2 separate regions of the Homo sapiens genome follow, and region 2 is linked to region 1. The links come from fine-mapping of genetic effects on gene expression. A gene starts in region 1. The other region holds a variant in brackets. All regions are shown on one strand. Distances are from middle to middle. Region 1 holds the start of EPHA2 (EPH receptor A2). Region 2 has its middle 16 kb from the start of FAM131C.

Evidence for each region.
Region 2: its variant is fine-mapped to the expression of EPHA2 in whole blood (TOPMed, PIP 0.97).

Annotation. Positions count from the first base shown.
Region 1 is chr1:16,152,490-16,160,810 of GRCh38, forward strand. EPHA2 (EPH receptor A2) reads right to left here and starts at 3,580. Exons shown (of 17, transcript NM_004431.5): 1 at 3,359-3,580. The coding sequence starts at 3,443. It overlaps EPHA2-AS1 (EPHA2 antisense RNA 1), which reads left to right and starts at 2,726. Exons shown (of 3, transcript NR_187275.1): 1 at 2,726-3,266; 2 at 4,482-4,690.
Region 2 is chr1:16,085,254-16,093,574 of GRCh38, forward strand. No RefSeq gene overlaps it. Among named protein-coding and RNA genes, the nearest start is that of FAM131C, 16 kb to the left of the region's middle. The variant C/T (reference allele first, on the strand shown) is at 4,923.

The DNA.
Region 1 (8,321 bases):
GGGGAGGGTGGCTGGGGGCAGCGGGGTGGGCAGGGGCAGGGATTTGTTCAGACATGCCCAGGGCCGGGGCTTTGAAACTCACTAACCCCACTAGCAAATGGAATGTTCCAGCTACACAGGAAGGAATCTGGAGGCTCCTGATTTCAGCTGGGTGGGTAGAAGGACAAAGGTTCCTCACAGTCCTGCAGCCCCCCCTTAGATTGACAGGAGGCTGAGGTCTGTGCCCAAGTGAGAGGGCTCACCGCTACCAGGCTTCTGAAGGGTTAACCTGGCATGGAGGGCCCTCCCTTTCCAGCCTAGGCCTGGCTCTAGAAGTAGCACAGGGCTCAATCGGAGAAGAAAAGAAGCCCTCACACAGGAAGGAGCCCCCCCTGCAGGGGTTTCCAACCCCGGCCCCCTCCCAGGGAAATTCCCTCGAACCAACCACCAGGAACAGGAGGCGCCCAGCGCTGGGTCCCTCCGCCCTGACGCGGGCGCGGCTCTTTCCCCAGGTTCTTCCAGGGACAGAGGCTCCCGCTTCTCTGGAAAGGGTGGGAGCCTGGGAGCCCCTCGGCTGACCCAGACGGCTTCCTGGAGAGGCTTAGGCTAAGCAGGGCTTATCCATGAGCTCTCTATCCCCTTACCTTCCCATTTCTGGGGGGAAAAAAAAAAAGCAAAAAACACCTCCTTCTTTGCCATGAGTTCCACCGTAAGTGCCATCTTTGTGGGTCCACATTGCTCCACAGCTTCTTCCACAAATGCAGGACTGCCACCCACTCCCGGTCTCCGGTCCTTCTCCGCAGCCTCCGAGGCTGTGGTTCCCTCCCCGCTTCCCCCATTCCTCTCTAACCAAGACTAGCTAATCCCTAAAGGAAGCAGGGAGGTGGGGACTCTGGGGAAAACATGAAAGAAAAGGGAAAGGGGACAGAGGGCAGACTTGGCCCCGGTAGAACCAGAAACCAAGGACTTCCTGGCACTCTCCAGCCCTCTTCCCATCAGCAGCACCCCAGCTCAGCACCCCCTGCCACCCGCCCAGGCCCCTGCCCAGCTATGCCTGCTTCCCAGGAAAATCTACCATGACACCAACCACAAAGCAGGCAGGGCCTTGGCTCTGGCAGCCAAGAAGCGGGATGCTCAGGTCTGGTCCTCTGTCCAGAAGGCCCTGGTTGGCAAGGGCTCGGGCCTCCCTCAGTTTCCCCATTTGTAAAAATGAGGGCAGATTCAGTGGCTGTTGATGACCTAACAGGAGCCACGTGGGCAACCAAGTATAGCCTAGGGGTGAGGGGGCAAGAAAGAAGTCTGAAGCAGCCTGGGGGTAGGTGAAAAAGGCACCTGTGTCCTCCTGCCTGCCCCCTAAGCCACCCCCAGGCAGACCCACCACATACAGCCTGATTCCCAGGAACTGAAACCAGCAGCTGCCAGCTAGGCCATCATGCCCACCCCCACCTAGGCACACTTCTCTAGGGACTCTTTCACGGGGACTCAGAGTCGAAGCAAAAATGTACCCCCACCCCAGTGCAATACACAAGCCTTTCCCCCTGCATCCCATGGGGTGTGGGGGTGGGGTTTAATCACACAGGCTGGGGAGAGGTGGACACAGGGGACAAGGACAAGGCAGCTCCAGGCTTCCAGGCCAGCTTGGGGACTGCAGCAGCAAAGCACCCGCCTAATCCCCCACCCCCCCATGGGCAGCCGAGGAGAAAGGCCTATAGTGATTCCAGCTGTCTCTCCCCTTCTCTCCAACCACAGTCCCCCAGGAAGGGGGAGGACCAAACGTTGGTGGGGCGGATATTGAGGGTGGCAGAAATCCTTGCCATGAGCTCCTGCAACCAGAAGTCCCGGTTGAGACCCCAACCCGGGCCCTGTCACTCCAGAGACTGAGACAGGATGCCACCCCCAACACCTGCCACTGCCCAACGGCTCCAGATCCGGCCTCTTTTCCTCCCAACACAGAACAGCAAAACCTCCAAACCCAGTTTGGGAGGCAGAAAAAGAAGGAAACAGGCCGGGGGTGGTGGCTCATGCCTGTAATCGCAGCACTTTGGGAGGCCGCGGCGGGTGGATCACCTGAGGTCAGGAGTTCAGAATCAGCCTGGCCAACATGGTGAAACCTCGTCTCCACTAAAAGATGCAAAAATTAGACGCGCCTGGTGGCGGGCACCTGTAATCCCAGCTACTAGGGAGGCTTGAGACAGGAGAATAGCTTGAACCCGGGAGGCAGAGGTTGCAGTGAGCCGAGATTGCGCCATTGCACTCCAGTCTGGGCAACAAGTGCGAAACTCCGTCTCAAAAAAAAAAAAAAAAAAAAAAAAGAAGGAAACTTCTCACCGGCCCAAGTTTCCTCCCGGCTTCCCCCTTGTGGAGCCTGCGGAAACCTCGCTCTGCCCAGGCAGGAGGGGAAGCCTTGCCCTCACTGTTGGAAATTGAAGCTGGCCTGGGCTGGGTGGACAGGAAGGTCTTCGGCCAGGGCAGGAGCCCCCATCCTCGCCCTGACCCTAGCGGAGGGACAACACCCCCACCACGCACCCGCTGCGCCATGAGCAAAGTCTGCGGCCCCTCACTCGGCGCGGCTCCGGGAACACTGGGGCGGGGGTGGGTGATTCAGTCCCCCACCCCCGGGTGTCCTGACTCCCTGGTGGCCCTGGGCTGACAGCTCCACACCTTGGGAGGCCGCACCCCCACCTGCCGCATTTCCTCGTTCTGAGTCACCCTTGCTCAGAACGCTTGACTTTGGGACTTCCTGTCCGCACTCGCGGCCCCTAACCTGCCCCGGGAGCCCGGGAGTGCGGCTTGGGAAGGAGGGAAAGGAGTGTGTGAGCAGGGATTGGCCCGAACCTATCTCCACGCTCTCCCCCGGGACTGGAGGTGAAGGGGGGCGTGGAGAAAATCTCAGGGAACAGGGGCTTCGACAGGGGGCTCCCGCCCGCCCGAGCCCCCTCCCCAAAATGCGAGGCCTGCACAGTATGCCTTCTCCGCAAAACCTCGGCAAGCGGGTTAGTGAATTCAGGTCACTAAGAAGCTGAGCCCGCGGAAAGCTGCCCAAACACCCCCTTCTCTAGGGGACTCCCCACGCCCCCCGCCGGGACGCGTTCCCGAAGTCGCCGCCTGGACTGCAACCGCGTGGCCTGCGCCGCGTCCTCTTCTCCGCAGCCTCCGAGGCCCGTGCGACCAAGCTGAAACCGCTTATTCTCCGGAGCCCCTATGACCCCGGGTGGGGGCCAGGGCTCGCCTCGATCGCAGCCCGTGCGCCCTCCGGACTCCAGTTCGCCGGGACTGGGCGACACCAGGTAGGTTCCAAAGTTGCGCGCGTCAAGGAGCGCCGGGCTCTAGGGGGCACTGGGGCCCGGGGGCCAGGGGTCCAGACGCCGCGCGCACTCACCTTCCTTGCCCTGCGCCGCCGCGGCCGCGGCCAGCGCACAGCCCCACAGCAGGGCGAAGCAGGCGCGGGCTGCCTGGAGCTCCATGCCGCGCTTCTCGCTCTCGGTCCGATCCCCCCGAGCCCGGCTCCCGCACACCCGCACGCCTGCACGCCGGCCTCGGTGTCCGCTCCCGCCCGCCGGCCTGCGCGCAACTTCTGCCCCTCCTGCCCCGAGTCCTTAATGGAAGTTGGGTGAGAACCGACTCCTGTTCATTCATGCCCTGCGTGACGTCACCAACGCCCGCCCTCAGGAATGTCTTTAAAGGGGCCGGGCTGGCACCCGGAGGAGAGGGAGGGGAAGTCCGGAGGGGTTTGGAGGAGGACCTTGGGGCCCTCTGGACTCGCGGGCTCCCCGCAGGCCTTCCAAAGTTTGAGCGTCTCAAAGCGCCAGCGCCCCTACGGATTAGCCCCCAGGGATCTCTGAGCCTGGTATCCTCGGTGGAAACGTTTAATGGTTTTGCGCTGAGCCATACCCATTCTGCCCTTCACCTCTGAGACTGAGCTCAATGCGACTGAGCTCAACGCTGGCCTGAAGGTCTGAGCTGAAATGGATTGGGGGTCCAATAAGCAGTTGCCTCCTAAGCAGCAGGCCTGAGAGAGTGGCCCAGAAATAGACCTGGATGCCCTCCTTCCTAAAACCCTTGAAGAGTATATCAAGCTGCTGATGGTCAAAAAGAGTATCTCTGTTCAGAAGCCTATAAGCCTACTATGATCTGAGAATAGGTTCATTTCCTCTGGGAATGGATCAGACATGCACTATCTTATTTATTAATAATTCTCATCTGGGAGGCAGGGGTCATCATCCCCATGTTACAGAAGAGGAGACTGAGGCTCCAAGAGCAGAAACAACATGCCCAAAGGGTGCACAGCTCACGGGTAGTAGAAGCAGGATTTGAATCCTGGTGGTCTCTGCTTGAACCACTGCTTCTTTTTGGGGAAGGGGGCAAGGGGCACCCCTGGCCCCCGACCCTGGCATGGGTTGATAGGTTTTGACAGTTTGGAGGACACCTGCCTACCACCTGCCCCTTGATAAGGCCTCTTCACAAAACTTCCTCAGACATGAGCTCATCTCCCTTCCTGACAGAAGCGGCTAGTGTGAGTGAAACAAACGGGAAATTTGCTCTGGCCCGCCTGCCCAGCCACCCACGGCTGCCTGTTGGCCAATCACCATTTGACCAGTCCAGGAAGAGCAACTGTGGCAGGCCTGATTTCCTGGGAGGCCCCAGACTCCCTTTGCCTACCTCTTCCTCTCTGACCCCATCCTCGCTTTGATGCCCGGGACCTGCTACCCAGGTACGTGGGTCTTCTCTGCCGGATGTGGACATCTTGGCCTCTCGCCTTGGTGCCTACTCTTGGGAAGCGGGTCCAGACATCTCTCCTGCAGGAAGAGAGGAAGGGTTAATTACAGGCGTTGGGGATAATTAAAGCCTTTGACCAAGAGGATGGGAGGAGAGCCTTGGTCCTCTGAGAGCCTGTGAGTGTGCAAGTGCCTGTGAGAATAAGTGCATGTGTATGAGGGTGTGAGATTTTGTTGAATGTGCATTCGTGTGTATAGACATGAGAGTGTTGATGTATGTATGACTGTGTGTGAGTGTGTGTATGGACATAAGTGTTGTATGTGACTGGGCAGGGTGGCTCAGGCCTGTAATTCCAGCACTTTGGGAGGCCGAGGCAGGCAGATCATTTGAGGTCAGGAGCTCCAGACATGCCTGGCCAACATGGTGAAACCCCGTCTCTACTAAAAATACAAAAAAATTAGCTGGGCGTGGTGCCACTCACCTGTAATCCCATCTACTAAGGAGGCTAAGGCAGGAGAATCACTTGAACCCCAGAGGCAGAGATTGCAGTGAGCCGAGATTGCGCCACTCACTGCACTCCAGCCTGGGCCAGCAAGACTCTGTCTCAAAAAAAAAAAGAAAAAAGTGTTGGTATATGTGTGTATAAGTGTGTGTGCATGGGCATGAGAGGATTTGGGTATGAGTGTGTGTCTGTGTGTGTTTTTGTGGATTGTGTGGATGTGTCTAGATGTGTGTATGAGTGTGCATGTGGGTGTGAGAGATTTGTGTATGAGTGCATGTGAGTGTGGATTTGTGTATGCATGTATTTGTGAGTGTGCCATACTTCACAGTAGATGTGGAGTCAGCCCATGAGTTTCTGAACAAGTTATTTCACTTTTCTGAGCCTCAGTTTGCTCCTGGAAAGATGTAAAGCCTATTTAGGAGAGTTACTGTAAAGATCAAATAAAGTCATGCATGTAAACCACAGGGGCCAGGACTACAGAAAGCACGCATGAAATCTCAGCTGTTACTGGGTTACATGCGGTTCAGCAACAGGAAGCCACATCCGTGGAGAGCAGGGCATGTGTTGTGCCCAGGGCTCTGTGGACAGGCACATGGGGTGTGTGGATGAGTGTGAGCATGTGTGTAGTACGTGGTTTGGATAAGTGTTTTGCATGTTGTATTGGAGCCTCTGGGCTAGGGACACTGGCGTGTGTAAGACTCCATGTGAGTTGTGTGGAAGCCACTGCTTGTACATGTGTGTTACATGCCACTTGCAGGCTCCATCTGTCAGATGTGTCACTAGAGGACACACTGCAGGAGGACAGGGATGTTTGTAGAAAACAGACAGTGCCTGGGCCAGGCGCGGTGGCTCACGCCTGTAATCCCAGCACTTTGGGAGGCCGAGGCAGATAGATCACTTGAGGTCAGGAGTTTGAGACCAAGCTTGTCATCATGGTGAAACCCCGTCTCTACTAAAAATACAAAAATTAGCCGGGCGTGGTGGCGCATGCCCGTAATCCCAGCTGCTCGAGTTGGAGGCAGGAAAGTCGCTTGAACCCAGGAGGTGGAGGTTGCAGTGAGCCGAGACCGCGGCACTGCACTCCAGCCTGGGTGACAGAGCGAGAGCCAAAAACAAAAAAAGAAAACAGACAGTGCCTGATACATACTAGATATTCAGCAAGCCTCCGCTGAATGAATGAACTAATGAGTGAATGACAGTGTTGCGAGTTCTGTGTTGCGTGAAAGTCTCTGTGTGTAGTGTTGGTTGGTCCTTCTGGTGGCAAGTGTGGGTTTCCATGTGTGGCCTCAAAAGGTTGAATCCAAGCACACACACGGCAGGGGTGCAGGCAGGCCCTGATGGCTGTGGGGCGTGTGCCCAGCAGTATGTGCACAAGTTGGGGGCTGAGAGCATAGGGCAGGGTGTTGCTCATCTGCAGCATGTGACGTGAACAGAGGCCTATGGAAAGGAGTGGTATGTCAGGTGGTGGCAAGAGGGTGTTCCACCTGGCTTTTCCCTGGCTTTTAGTCACCCATTTAATGACACACCCTTCCCTCTTTTCCTGTCCGACTCAGAGTCTTTCCCGCTCTAGGTGACTGGGTGCTAAGGAGGAAAGTTCTTCAGTGAGTCTTATAAAGCGGCACCAAAACGCGGTATTTATAGTGACATAATCAGCCCTAATGGAGATGGAATTACCCCATAAAGGCCCCAAGGAGCCCTCAGGGCCTCAGCGCCACTGCAGCAGACAAGGCTCCTGTACAGGCAGGTGGAGCCCGAGTGAGTGTGTGTTTGTGTGTGACTGCCTCTCCTGCCAATCCCTGCCTCCGGCCCACCAGCCTGCTTAGGGGCCCACCTTTGCTAGGACTTAGCTGGGGCTGGGTACTGGGGGCAAGGAGATGACAAAGGTGAATGCTGAAGCCATGGCCTCACTTACCCCACCTTTGATCTGTGCCTGCCTTTGGCCAAGAGCATCAGAAAAAAAATAATGCGGCCTGGGCAATACAGTGAGACCCCATCTCTACAAAAGAAAAAAGAAAAAAAATTAGCTGGGCATGGTGGTGAGCACCCGTGGCCTCAGCTACTCGGGCGGCTGAGGAAGGAGGATTGCTTGAGCCTAGGAGGTCAAGGCTGCAATGAGCCGTGATTGCACCACTGCACTCCAGCCTAGGCAACCAAGTGAGACCCTGTTTCAAAACAAAATTTTTTTAAAAAAAGAAAAGCAAAGAAAAAAACTGTAGCCAATACTTATGAAGCACTACTATGTGCCGGGCCCAGTTCTAGGCACTTATCTGTACTGATCCACTTAGTTCTCATGACACCTTCAGGGAGGTGGCCACTGCTCCTGCCCACATTTTGCAGAAGAGCAAATTTGGAAGTAAAATTTGGAGCTGGCATTCTGGCCCAGACAGGCTAGATCCAGCGCGCACTCTCATGGGTACCTGCCTCAACCATTGCCTCTGAATTCCACTGAACCTGGAGAGCAGTGCCCCGTCCTGGAATGTGCCAACTCTCCGCAGCTGGGATCTTTAAGGTCAGTCTAATTACTACCTCTTGGGTGAAACCCCCAGGGATCAGGCCCCCCCTAGAGCCCCAGGGGCCTCCATGCTACATGCCTACCAGCACCCTGCTCTCAACCAACTGAACTCTTTTTTGTTTTTCAAAGCCTCTGAACTATCTTCTCAACTAGACTGTAAATCCCTCAGAGGCAGGGTATGAATCCAGCAACAGGTAGAACAGTTCCCCACACATTCTGCTCAATAGATGCTAATTTTTTTTTTTTTTTTTTTTTTGAGACAGAGTCTTGCTCTGTCCCCCAGGCTGGAGTGCAGTGGCGCAATCTCAGCTCACTGCAACCTCCACCTCCCGGGTTCAAGTGATTCTCCTGCCTCAGCCTCCTGAGTATCTGGGATTACAGGTGCACGCCACCACACCTGGCTAATTTTTGTATTTTTAGTAGAGACAGGGTTTCACCATGTTGGTCAGGCTGGTCTTGAACTCCTGACCTCATGATCCGCCCTCCTCGGCCTCCTAAAGTGCTGGGATTACAGGCGTAAGCCACTGTGCTTGGCCTTAGATGCTCACATTTGATGGTGACATTCTAAATTAGTTTCCTCCATTCATTTCCTTTTTTTTTAGACGGAGTCTT
Region 2 (8,321 bases), 67 kb before region 1:
GCATTCCAGCCTGGATAGCAAGAGTGAAAGTCCATCTCAGAAAAAAAAAAAAAGAAAAAGAAAAGAAAAAAGAAATAAACATTCATATGATTCTGTACCTGCTGGGTGAGGCTCCTCATGAACATTGTCCCTTTTCGTCCTCACGACCAGCTGAGGAAGTGGGATTATTTAGAGGATGGTTGTGCGGATAAGGAAACTGAGGCTCTAAGAGGCAAGTGCTAGGATTCCAAATTCCATCGCCTGAGAGGGCATCCAGAGCACAGGTCTCCATATCTCGAGGTGGAGATAGGAGGGGAGGAGGAGAGCGTGGGTCAGCTGGGCTGGGGCTGCTCCCTCTGTGGACCCTGGGCTTCAGGGTTGAATTGCTGCTGACACTTCCAGGGCCTGGCTGGGCCAGGATGGAGTTCAGGGCTGAGTGAAGGCAAGGTCAAGCCTTCTGATCCTGGAGGGCTGGGGGTCGTGGGCTTCAGGAGTGTTTGCCAGGCCTCGGACTGAGGAGGGGAGAGATGTGGCTCTGGGGACGGTAGTCACTTCCTCTTCCCTTCAAGGGAGCCTCCCAGGCCCTGCCAAGGAAGGACTGCTCCTCCCCATGTCCCTGGTTCTCACCAGAAACCTCAGCAGTGCTCTTAGGAAGTCCCGCTTTGGGGACCCACTTTTCTGGGGACACACCATGGCACTGTCAGGTGGAGAGTCTGGGCTGTGCCTTTTTTTTTTTTTTTTTTTGAGATGGAGTCTCTCTCTGTCACCCAGGCTGGAGTGCAGTGGCACAGTCTCAGCTCACTGCAAACTCCACCTCCAGGGTTCAAGCAGTTCTGCCTCAGCCTCCCAAGTAGCTGGGACTACAGGAGTGTGCTACCATGCCTGGCGAATTTTTGTATTTTTAGTAGAGATGGGGTTTCACCATGTTGGTCAGGCTGATCTCGAACTCCTGACCTCAAGTGATCCACCAACCTTGGCCTCCCAATGTACTGGGATTAGAGGCATGAGCCACGCCCGGCCACTTTTTTTTTTTTAAATAGAGACAGGGTCTTACTATATTGCCCAGGCTGAACTACTGGACTCCAGCCATTCTCCCACCTTAGCTTCCCAAAGTGTGCTGGGATTACAGGTGCGAGCCACCATGCCTGGCCTTGCTTTTTTTTTTTTTTGGCTTGACCTCAGCTCACTGCAGCCTTAACCTCCCATGCTCAAACAAGCCTTCTACCTCAGCCTCCTGAGTAGTAATGCCACCACGCCCGGCTAATTTTTTAAGTTTTTTGTAGAGATGGGGCTCGCTATATTGCCCAGGCTGGTCTTGAACTCCTGAGCTCAAGCGGTCTTCCCACCTTAACTTCCCAAAGTACTGGGATTACAAGCCTAAGCGATTGTGCCTGGCACCTTGCTCTTTTTTTTTTTTTTTTTCCTTAAGCAACAAGAACCTGTTTTATTTTTTCCAAATACAAATACAGAAGTTTGCATGTTCTGCAAATATTGCTTCAAAGCAACATTTCTATTTAGGGTGCCTTCTGTTCGAATAGCACGTGGACGTAGAAATGCATCCACGGTGCAAGGTTGGCTCGCCCAGGACCCACACTGCATACACTTACCGCTTAAAGAAACAAAATGGGAGGCCGGGCACAGTGGCTCATGCCTGTAATCCCAGCACTTTGGGAGGCCGAGGTGGGTGGGTCACCTGAGATCAGGAGTTCGAGACCAGCCTGGCCAACGTGGTAAAACCCCATCTCTACTAAAAATACAAAATTAGCCAGGCATGGTGGCGCATGCCTGTAATCCCAGCTACTGAGGAGGCTGAGGCAGGGAGAATCGCTTGAACCCGGGAGGCGGAGGTTGTAGTGAGCCAAGATCGCGCCACTGCACTCCAGCCTGGGCAAAAAGAGCAAAACTCAGTCTCAAAAAAAAAAAAAAAAAGAAACAAAATGGTCCAGGTACAGTGGCTCACACCTGTAATCCCAGCACTTTGGGAGACCGAGGTGGGTGGGTCACCTGAGGCCAGGAGTTTGAGACCAGCCTGGCCAACGTAGTGAAACCCTGTCTCTACAAAAAATACAAAAAAAAAAAAAAAAACTAGCCAGGCCTGGTGTCCGGTGCCAGTAATCACAGCTACTCAGGAGGCTGAGGCAGAAGAATCACTTGAACCTGGGAGGTAGAGGCTGCAGTGAGCTGAGATCGTGCCACTGCACTCCAGCCTGGGCAACAAGAATGAGACTCCATCTCAAAAGAAAAAAAAAAAAGAAACAAAATGATCAGTCAAACCAGAATTGTTTTTGTCAAGGTAGTTTTTTATAGGTGGATAGTTTTCTCTAAAGACAAAAGAGGTTGTGCACGTATTTCTAAATGGTAACAATAATATTTGCAAATAACAGTTTTCCAGTGCTCCAACTTGGGGTTAATTCAGCTTGACCCAGGACTTGGGAATGGAGCCCATCAACATGGCTTTAAATTGGGGAGGCACAATGAGGTCGTGAGAACTTGGGGAGTCCTCTCTGCCTAGGGCCGCTCGTTGATATGTCCTGGGGCGGTGTCACTGTGGGGAGGGTAGCCCTCCTCCTCACCATTGAGAGGCCCTGGGTCCCAGGCTTTAGATGGAAGAGAAGTAAGAGGTTGTTGGGGCTGAGGGCGGAAGCAGGAGGGTGAGGAGGCAGGAACAGAACCCTGCAGGGCCACTGACTCTCAGCCTCTGAACCTCCCCAGTCCCTCTCCCTCCTCCCTGTGCCTCCCCACACAGTCTCTCTCCCCGCAGCTCCCAAACCTTCTCCTTCCTGCCAGCCAGCTGGGGCGGGCAGACCAGGACCACCTTGGTCCAGGTGCCCCCTGATCTAATTTGTACTTTCTAACACTTCCTCCCATTTCCCCACCCCAGCCCGGGCTGGGCACCTCCTGGGAGGAAGAGGGGGAGGTAGGGCAGGGGTGGGGACAGGGAGAGCAGATTCCTAAACAGGAGACAGGAAGAAGCTCTGAGATGTTGGACAGAAAAAGGAGGTTCGGCTGTGACCAAATGAATAAACCTCACTCTGTCCCAGCCCCGCAGGCTGGCGGTGAGGACATGGGGATTGTGGGCCTGGCGTAGGTTTGGTGCTCAGGGAAAGATGGCTGTTACTACTGGAGAGTGGCCTCCCATGACCTCGCCTCACCTCCTCACTTCTCTGTAGGGAAACCAAGGCTCAGAGAGGGCGTGGGCCCAGTCCTGGGTCACACAGCGCTCACAGCCCGCTGGGGTGGCGCCTCCCCTGGGTGGCTCCCTTGGGGTGGGCTCCATTGTGCTCTCCCCAGCAGGAAACCGCTGTGCTCAGCAGCCTGGGCAGTAGGAGAAGAGGAACGAGTTTGGCTACGTGACCGGCAGGCCCTGGAGGCTGAGCCAGGCCCAGCCGGGAAAACAACCTGCTGGAGGCCGCCTGGGCAGGGCCAGGAGGGTGGGCACCAGGGTGGAGACCTCACTGCCCAGAGAGGGGGAAGTGGGCCGAGCTGTGGGCTTCCCCTGGGACAGAGTTGGGAGGAGTCCTTGGGGACCTGTGCCCCGAACCTGCCTGTGAGGGGTAGCTGGGCTCGTTACTTCCCTGATACGCATGGCCCCGGGGAGCAGCAGGTGGGCAGGTGGGCAGCGGGGCCAATGGGCACACACAGCACTGAGGGTGATTTGCACAGAATGCCACCCACTCTTCACCTCTGATTTATGAGGATTCGAGAAGCCAACAGGGCAGGAGGAGGGTTCAGCCTTACCCATGGGCCACTTGGCTCCCAGGGGCCCAGTGCCTGCAGGGGCAAGACCCAGGGGAAAGGGGCAGGGCCTCTGCTGAGCTTCCCCACCATAGGACTTGGAGCATGGGACTTGAGGCCCCTCTCGGGGCCTCAGTTCCCCTCAGCGACTCGTGCAACCGTTGCCTCCCTCACCTCCACACACAGGGCTGACTCAGCGCCTGGACACTGGCTATCAGGGGAAGGCCCCGCAGGCCCACGTACTTCACCGCTTGGCCAGTTTCCGCAGGGCAGGCACTGAATGCCAGAGCCACTAGTCAGGACTGCATCAGGAAGCAAAGGGGAGCTGTTGAAGGATTCAGCACTGGGGCAGGAGGTGATCAGATGAGAGTGCAGGAAGGGGCCAGGCTGGAGGCTAGAGGGAGGTGGGTAGAGTCCAGGTGAAAGGAGGAGGCCACAGCTTGGACCTCAGTGAAATGATAGAAGAGGGGTGACAGAATAAGGTTTAATGGATGCCTGTGAAAGATGGCAGGGGAAAGAAAAAGAAAGAAATTGGAGGCCGGACACAGTGGCTCACACCTGTCATCCCAGCACTTTGGGAGGCCAAGGCACAAGACTCGCTTGAACCCAGGAGGTGGAGGCTGCAGTAAGCCGAGATCGCACCACTGCACTCCAGCCTGGGTGACAAAGCAAGACTCTGTCTCAAAAAATAAAAAAGAAAGGGAAGGGGAGGGGAAGGGAGGGGGAGGGGGTGGTGGCTCCCAGCACGTTGGGAAGCTGAGGCACAAGAATCTCTTGAACCCAGGAGGCAGAGGTTGCGGTGAGCCAAGATCGCACCACTGCACTCCAGCCTGGGTAACAAAGCAAGACTCTGTCAAAGAAAGAAAGAAGGAAAGAAGGAAAGAAAGAAAGGAAGGAGGAAGGAAGGAAGGAAGTAAGTAAGTAAGTAAGTAAGGAAGGAAGGAAGGAAGGGAGGAGGGAGGGAGGGAGGGAGGTTGGAGGTGCAGGCACTGGGGTCAGGCAGCCGGTCCTCTTCCTGATGGCATGGCCCACTGTGTACCTGATGGTGTGTGAAGTCCATCCCTCTTGTCTTTTGAACATAACAAAAGTAAGGTTGGAACTGAGGCAGAACAAAGAAAGCCTCCTGTCTCTCTCTCTGGACACCATAGCACAAAACACCCTGGGCCACAGATGCCCAGAACCCAGAAACAGATGCAAGGAAGCAGGAA[C/T]GGGGACCTGCTTGCCAGTGCTCTCACATCCTTATTAGGGGAGACCAACTCTGCAGCTGTGACGCATTGCTTCAAGAAATGAAACTCTGGAAGGTGACCAGGAGAGAACACCCTGCCTAGATTACAAGAACCCCCTGAGCCAGAGCCAGTGCAAGCCCAAGCTGAGCCGTCAGCCTCTCCTGCATGCCACAATCCAAGACCCTGCCTCACTTGCCTGCTCTCTGGGAGAGGAAAGGGACCCATAGGATGGACATCTCCTGCCCTACCCAGTGCCCTACCCCAATCTCCTTATCTGTAAAATGGGCCTATAATGGTGCCTGCCTCAGAAGAAGAAGCCAAGGGCACTGTGTACAAGGGTGTGTGGCACATATGATGTGCCTGGTACACTGTGAGTGGCACATATGATGTACCTGGTACACTGTGCATGGCGCATACGAAGTGCCTGGTACACAGTTTGGTCTCACCCAGGCCCTGAGAGTCAAATACATGCTGCCCATCATACAGAAGAGGAAAACTGAGGCTCAGAGAAGTTAAAGGAACTGGCTCATGATCTCCCTACAATTCTAACTGTGCAACTCCTAGGCCTGGGTTCCCTTGGCTGGCAATGTGGAGGGAAATGGGTGTGGGTAGGTGGGTGCAGGCTCCACATGCTCTTCACTTGGCAAGAGGGAGAGGGGACCTACCCCCTTCCTCCATCTGTCCTGGCCTCTCTTCCACCTCCCAACCCCACCAAAGGCAGGTCCTGCAAGGAAGCATCCCTTTCTGACTCCAGAACTCCTCCGTGGGCTGCAATGACTCTCTTGGGTCTAACCTGAGTCCTTCCTACTTTGGGTACAGACTGCTTCCTCTCCACCTGCCTGCTGGGCTGGCAGATGGCAGCCACCTCTATCAAGACCCCCAACGCTTCAGTGATGTGGAAAAGAGGGGTCACCAACCCCTCTTGCAGGGCATCATCCTTTCTGGGCCAGGGGTGCCCTAAATCTCTGCCAGCCTCCCCTGCAAAAGGAACTGCAGCTCCTCACACTCCAGGGCTGCTGTGGGCACGTGAGGGAAATCAGGCAGAGAGGAAATCAGACATCGGGTTCTAAGCAAAGACCTGCAGTCGTCCTCTTCTGGTCACCCCTTCAGTCTCGTGCCCTGTCCCAGCGGAGCCAGAACCTTGAATGCCAACTGGGCCAGGCAGGAACAGCCAGCCTCTCCTGGCACACCTGGCCAGGTGAGCAGGTGATGAAGCCAAGAGCCAGCTCATCACTTGGGTGTAAACAACTGCCCAGTGGGAGGTTGGCAGCCACCTCCTCTGCTCTATCCCCAGTCCCTGCCCCGTGAGCCCCGCCTACCCAGAGAAAGAGGGTGTCCCAACTTGTTGGAGGAGTTTCCATCCCACATCGGTGCCTGGTGCCTGTACTGGGTGTGTGTGGGGGACTCTGATGGGGGCCCACAACGGATCTTTGTCCTCCAGACCTGCGCCCCTCACTGTCCGGGAGGTGCCCAGCTCTTTGGAATGCCAAGGCCCCTGTCTCACCCACCCACCCCAGATGGCTTTGCCATTCCCTCCCAGGGCCCTCGCCAGCACAACAGAGCAAGGGCCGTCTGGGAACTAGGTCGTGCCTTAAGCGGAGGGAGCTTGGCTCTCTCTACCCACCAGCTGAGAGCTGTGTCCCTTGGAAGAAGGCGTGCAGTTCCAGGTTTCCAGAAGGAGGACGAAAACAGACCTCCACTGAGCACTTGGCCCCGATGCCCTGCATTTGACAGATGTTGCCTGGAAGACAGATACTGCCACCCTCACTTTAAAGATGGAGAAACTGAGGCAAGACCACCAATTCCATGAAGGCTGGGACCTTCTCTGCCTTGTTTGCTCCCGGCACACAGCAAGATCTCAAGGTGTACTTGTGGAAGGGATGAATGGGGTTCGGAGAGGGCAAGTGACGTGGCCAAGGTCACACAGCCAGAAAGGAGCTCAACTGGGGATAATTCAGGCCGGTTTGAACCCTAAACTCAGGCTGCTTCTGAGACCCACCCACCGAGGTGGAGGCATCACACCTGCCCACATGAACGTGCACCCACCCCGCTGTCAGAGTCCTGCTCACACACATATACACATCTACACCTGTGTGGGTCCACCCAGGCACACAGCCCCCACCCACACCACTCAAGCCCATGCAAAGGGCCCTCCCACCATCACCTCCCAGTCACCCTCTTAGACACCCCTCCCTTTCCTGAGGTGTGCGTCTTCCTTCGTATCAATGAGCAGTAAATCCAGCTTTGTCCAGGTGTGTTTCTGGTGGTCTTTGGAAGTCTGTGGGTACACAGACTTCCTTCTGTGCTGTTCTCACACCCTCCTTGTCACCACCCCCTCCTCCACACCTGAGAGGCAGGATGGTACATGCCCTCTTCCACCCCCACAGCCCTGGTGCCTTCTCTGCCTCTCCAGGCCTAGCAGTTGCACTGGCACCACCGCTGTTCCGGAGAAGGCTAGAGAGTCACAGAACGTCACTTCTGGAAGGGCATCCCCCCAGCATATAGAGGGTCAGTCTCAAGCCCAAAGAACGCAGCACCCTGCCTGCGGCGATGGAGCTGACACCTGGGCAGCATTGGGGGAGCAAGGGGCTGGGCTGCCTGCAAGGTGATCCCATGGTGCAGGACCGGCTCGCTACTGTGTCACGTGGTCCAGCCTCCGGAGCAGCTGAAAGTGTAGACCGGAGAGGGAGGCCCAAACCCCAGGATCTCCTCCTCCTGCTTTGTGCACTCCCAGATCTGCCTGGGGACCAGCTGGGGTCTCAGCTCCCTGGGCTGTGGGGCGGGGGCCTTGTTCTCCAGAGCGGGCTGAACCTGGAATGGGCCCTGGTTCTCTACTAATAAAGGGCCCACTAGGCAGAGGTGGTTAAGGAGGCCCAGAGGACCCCTAGGAGGTCCAGGTGGCATGTACTGGACTCTGTGCCTGAGCCTGTACACTGAGTTTTCCATTTGACCTCACGGCAACCCTGGGAGTAAGGCATTAATTTGTTTTACGTACCAGCAATAGTCTTATTTTCTTTCTTTTTTCTGTTTTTTGTTTGTTTTGTTTTGATTTTTGTTTTGTGTGTGTGTGTGTGTGTGTGTGTGTGTGTGTTTTGTTTTGTTTTGTTTGAGATAAGGTCTCACTCTGTGGCCCGGGCTGGAGGGCAGTGGCGCGATCACAGCTCCCTACAGCCTTGACCTCCTAGGCTTAGGCAATCCTCCCACCTTAGCCTCCTGAGTAGCTGGGACCACAGGCATGCGCCACCACGCCTGGCTAATTTTTTTTATTTTTATTTTTGTAGAGACAGGGTCTTGCTTTATTGTCCAGGCTGGAATAGTCTCATTTTCTAGAGGGATAAACTGAGTCCCAGGGAGTTAAGGCACTGGCCCAAGGTCCCCAAA